2 separate regions of the Homo sapiens genome follow, and region 2 is linked to region 1. Evidence: fine-mapped expression QTL. Tissue or cell type: whole blood. Region 1 holds a variant in brackets; the other region holds the start of a gene. All regions are shown on one strand. Distances are between the middles of the regions.

What was found. PIP is the estimated chance that this variant, and not a neighbour inherited with it, causes the effect.
Region 2: RIPK3 starts here. The variant in region 1 is fine-mapped to the expression of RIPK3 in whole blood (INTERVAL, PIP above 0.99).

What each region holds. Positions count from the first base shown.
Region 1 is chr14:24,418,821-24,421,577 of GRCh38, reverse strand. It overlaps NYNRIN (NYN domain and retroviral integrase containing), which reads right to left. Exons shown (of 9, transcript NM_025081.3): 9 at 2,295-2,757. Among named protein-coding and RNA genes, the nearest start is that of CBLN3, 9.5 kb to the left of the region's middle. The variant TC/C (reference allele first, on the strand shown) is at 1,603.
Region 2 is chr14:24,338,521-24,341,020 of GRCh38, reverse strand. RIPK3 (receptor interacting serine/threonine kinase 3) reads left to right here and starts at 1,030. Exons shown (of 10, transcript NM_006871.4): 1 at 1,030-1,214; 2 at 1,424-1,564; 3 at 1,697-2,006; 4 at 2,454-2,500. The coding sequence starts at 1,195. RefSeq lists enhancers at 1,075-1,144, 1,165-1,364, 1,595-1,664.

The DNA of each region.
Region 1 (2,757 bases):
GTGGTTGTACATGACTTTCAGTGAGTTACTTCACCTCTCCGTGCCTCATTTTCTTCCACCTATAAAATGGAGATACTAATTGTATGCACCCCACAGGGTTGGAAAGCACTTAGAACAGTACCCAACACAGAGCAAGTACTCAGTATATGTAAGTTACTGTTATCAGATGACTTAGTAAACAAGTTAAAAATTGGACCTGTCCCAGGGATTCTTGGACAGTCTTTTAAAAGCAGGTAGGATTTTTTATTTGTTGTAGCCATTTACCTGTTACAAAGCTTTTGTCTTCCAGGTATGTTCACTTTCATTCATGAACACATGGACTTAGTAAATACTTGCTAGGAAAGCATGGTATAGCAAGGCTTAGGTGGACCCAACTTCACCAGATAGCTTATGTAAGTTTTAACAGGGGCACGGGATAGGAATATTCTTTATTTTTATTGTTTGCTTATGTCATGGGATTGTCTGGATACTGGCAACTTTGTAATTTCTCTGTTAGAGACTTGGGGAAGCCCTCCTGCCAGGGCCCAAATAAGAAGGAATAATTGTGATGGTGTAAACCAGAGAAGCAGTGACTGGTTGCCTAGAGCGTCCATGGTGCTTTACCATGGACAAAACTCTTTAATTCACCCCTCCAAAAATAGGAGGAATCTCAAACTTCTGTTCAGACCTGGTAGATTGTTGAACAGCAAAGAAGAAAAACCTCACTGTCAGAGGACTTAGAAGCCAGCGTGAGTAAAATCTGATTCTTGCTTAAAGTTATCTAGAGTAAAAAGTAATAACCAAAAGTAATAAATTGTTTGTAGTACAGGTCAGCAATGGAAAGGGTCAGCACTCTAAAGTGGAAGGCTGACTGGAAAGGTGGCTTGGCAAAATCCTATTACTTTTGGTGAAGGGGCTCAGGCAAGGCTTCTCTGACTGTCATGTGGGCTGAGACCCCAGGCCCCTGCACCATGGGCTCCTAGGCCACATTGTTTCCCTTACCACCCTGAACTGTATTTGTTTGTTGGATTGTCTGTCTCCCTCACCTGACTGTGGGCTGCAAAGAGGCAGAGACCGTGTCACTCCTGTTACCTGTTAGCCATCCCACACCTAGGCAGAGCCTGGCACATAGCAGGTGTCCTATAAATACTGAATGAACAATGGTATGCACAGGAGCTGGGGAGTTCTCAGGAAGGATGGTTCCCACCCCAACCCGTACGCCAGCCAGTGCTGAGCAGAACCCCGGGCAAGTGAGAAAGGCAGCAAAAAGCAAAGGCCTAAAGTCACGAAGCTTGGCCTGGGTTAAGAAGGTCTCTGATCCTGAGGGGAGAGACCAGCAAGAGTTCCCAGGGCAGGAAGAAGAGTAATGTTAGCTACATATGATGAATGCTATTCCATCCCAAGCCATACTGGCCTCTTCAAACAGATTATTTCATGTAATCCTTGAACCATCTCATAAATTAGGAATTGTTACCCTGTGTTTTATAGATGGGGAAACTGAGACCTCAGGAAACAGCCTGCATAGGTAGCAAATATAGATGCAAACCTAGGTCTATAATTTTTCCAGTAAAATGAAGCTGGTTCAGCACTAACACCATTCTCTCATCATTCATTTATTTTCTT[TC/C]TTTCATTCCTCCCTTCCTTCCTTCCTTCCTTCCTTCTTTCCTTCTTTCTTTCTTTCCTTCTTTCCTTCTTTCCTTCTTTCCTTCTTTCTCTTTTCTTTTTGAGATGGAGTCTCACTCTGTCACCCAGGCTGGAGTGCAGTGGTGTGATCTCAGCTCACTGCAACCTCCGCCTCCCGGGTCCAAGCAATTCTCCTGCCTCAGCCTCCCGAGTTTACAGGTGCCTGACACCACACCCAGCTGATTTTTGTATTTTTAGTAGAGAGGGGGTTTCGCCATGTTGGCCAGGCTGGTCTTGAATTCCTGGCCTCAAGAGATCCACCCACCTCGGCCTCCCAAAGTGCTGGAATAACAGGCATGAGCCACCGTGCCCTGCCTCATCACTCGTTTTCATTCCAACCCTGCCCACTTCCAAGACATTAACTGCCAAGGGTACCAGCTTGGAAGCCCAGAGGTGGGACTCTCCTTCCAGCCCTGCCATGAAGCAGCTATGGAGCCTTAAGCATATCACCCTCTGGGCCCTGGTCTCTTCATCTGTACAGTAAGAGCTTGGGGCAGATGGTCTGGAAAAGGTACTTTTCTTCAAATCTGCAAGTTTATCTGGGAAACATATAGCAGCCATACCCCATGACTGCCCCACACTCCTCATTCCCACAATTGAGACTGAAGCTAAACAAAGAACTGGACATCAGCTCCAGTTTGATTCGTTTATTGACAAATCAAATGAAAAAAATTCACTTAAAAGAAGGGTATGTGATCACAAATGTAGCTAACAGGGGGAACGCATACAGCACCAGGGAGGGAGAGTGAGGCTGGACATACCATTACAGAGAGGAGGAAGAGAAAGAATGGCGCGGGGGGCGGAGGAAAGAGAGCACCTGCCAAAAATCCCACACTTTCCACTTCTCAGCTATCACTCAATCATTTTTCTGGACAGGGTTAACAGCTAGAAATGGTTTAAGGGCAACATCCAGGTAGTTTGTCTGGAAGATCAGGGAGATGAAGAGTTGGAGAGAATGTGGGTGTAGCATTTTGAAGGATTCTCCAGCTTGAACCTGTTGCCAGAACCCTTTTCATGGTGAACTGGGAGTCAGGAAGCTTAATCCTGGTCTCAGCTCAGCCATGAACTTGCTGTGTGACTTTGGGTGAATCATTT
Region 2 (2,500 bases), 80 kb after region 1:
GGCAGGCCCTATCGGGTTCCCACAACCTCCAGTCATGGTCAGACCTCAGAAAGGTAAAATATGGACACCTTTTTTCTGCCCTAAATCTTTAAGACTCTCCATGCTTCTGGGTTATCAAAAGACTGTGTCCAGAGCATGTGCTTGTCAGGAACATTAATTAGGGTATTTGCATGCAAGAGTTGTCATGCAAGGGAGAGGGCAGGAAAGCTCTGAGGTGTTTCCACTGTAGTGTACACCACAATGTCACCAACCCTCTGGATGGGCTGATAAATCTAGCCTTACCACAATGCCCTGGGAGTGGGCTTGGGGCCTGCCACCTCCAGGAGCTCCTGTTCAAAGGGCATATAAGTCCCTATCAATGCCAAAGACTTGCCTCGCAAGAGCAGCTATAGGGACTGGGCAGGAATACAGATAGGGATCCTTCACTACATTGTTGGATGCTTCACACCTTTCCCAGCCACCTGCACGACCAGCTGAGTGGTACAGCCCTGAAGCCTATGTGAAAACAGGATAACTTGATGGTTCAGAGCCATTATTTCCATATGGGCTTAGGCAAGGTACTTAAACTCTCAGTGTCTCAGTTTCCTCACCTATAGAAAGGTAATAAAAGCAGTACCTATCCCCTTAGGGTTCGTGTGAGAATTAAATAAGCTAATATATATACCTGGTGCATGATAAGTTTTATATACGTGTTGGCTATGATCTTAGGGCAGCTGTGAGAGAGCTGAGCCCTAGAACCATAAAACCCTCCTAAGCACCATCTCCACTCATGGCCTGGCAGGTCGTGGAGCAGGAAATCCTGTGGGAAAAGGGAAGGCTTTGACTGTAGGAGTGGGTTGATTGTGGGTTCCTGGAAGGTGAGGACTCCTTCCCTAACATCCTCAATGCCCAGCAACACCTAATCTGGCTGCGGCAGGTGCTCAGGAAACGCTAGTCAAGGAGAAAGGCACTAGCTTTCGCTCTGCCCCCTGCCCCACCCCAGGGGCGGGACTGTAGAGGCGCCTATAAGGGAAGTTGTTCAGTCAACTCGGAAAAAGGGTAACAACCCGGAAAGTAGACTCACCGTCTTGGTCTAGAGACTGACCCCTGCACAGACAGACCCCTTCCCCTCTCTGCGAAAGGACCAAGCCCCAGAAGTCACTCCATCTCCTACGGCTCGCAATTTCCAGAGGCCCCCTGGCACCTTCCAGCCTGATGTCGTGCGTCAAGTTATGGTGAGTAGGGAGTGGCATGTCGATCGCAGCCTCCGACATTCACACCCAGAGAGCCCCACAGACTCGCTCAGAGAACGTCTTTGAGTCCGGGGACGGTGGGGGCCGGCGAGGGAGGCTGGGGATTGCAGTGAGAACGCCGAGTCACAGGGGCGCGGGGAGCAGCGCTGAGGCACGGCACGGCCGGCTAGTGGGCGACACCCCTCTCTCAGGCCCAGCGGTGCCCCCGCCCCCTTGGTGTCCATCGAGGAACTGGAGAACCAGGAGCTCGTCGGCAAAGGCGGGTTCGGCACAGTGTTCCGGGCGCAACATAGGAAGTGGGGCTACGATGTGGCGGTCAAGATCGTAAACTCGTGAGTGACCCCGGTTGACCCCAGCCGCAATCTGGCCAAAAAGGTGGAGCCACTGTGCTCTGGGGCCTGAATGGCGAAGGGAGGGATTTTCCCACGACCCCGGTGCGACTCCAGCTCTCTCCTGGAGTGTAGGAAGGCGATATCCAGGGAGGTCAAGGCCATGGCAAGTCTGGATAACGAATTCGTGCTGCGCCTAGAAGGGGTTATCGAGAAGGTGAACTGGGACCAAGATCCCAAGCCGGCTCTGGTGACTAAATTCATGGAGAACGGCTCCTTGTCGGGGCTGCTGCAGTCCCAGTGCCCTCGGCCCTGGCCGCTCCTTTGCCGCCTGCTGAAAGAAGTGGTGCTTGGGATGTTTTACCTGCACGACCAGAACCCGGTGCTCCTGCACCGGGACCTCAAGCCATCCAACGTCCTGCTGGACCCAGAGCTGCACGTCAAGGTCAGCTGGTCTACACCCCTCTCAGCCTCAAGACAAGGCCCCAGAGCTGCTCCAGCCAGGCCCGCCGGACACTAGACCTCCAGAGCCCTGTCTATTGAATAGGCGTAGCCTCTCTCTCTGGACACAGGGCTGCCAGGGGACAAAGCCCAGCCAGGAGTTTTAGCTCCTGCCTACCAGGTGATAGAGGCCCTGAGCCACACGAGTCATTTCCACCAGCTGCCCCACCAGCCCCTCCAAAGAGTCATGGCTGACCCAGCCCTGGAGACTCAGACCTTGACCTAGCCCTACCACAAGGCACCTAGATCTACCATCCAAGGGAACCTCTTCCCTTGACCTCCACACTCCCTTTACAAAGCTGAACCTGCACCTTCTGGGGGCAGGGGGGTTCCTGGAGGCTCTCTGGCCCCCTTGTCTTCCCTACCTCCCACTTCTTTCCTTCCTTTGCAGCTGGCAGATTTTGGCCTGTCCACATTTCAGGGAGGCTCACAGTCAGG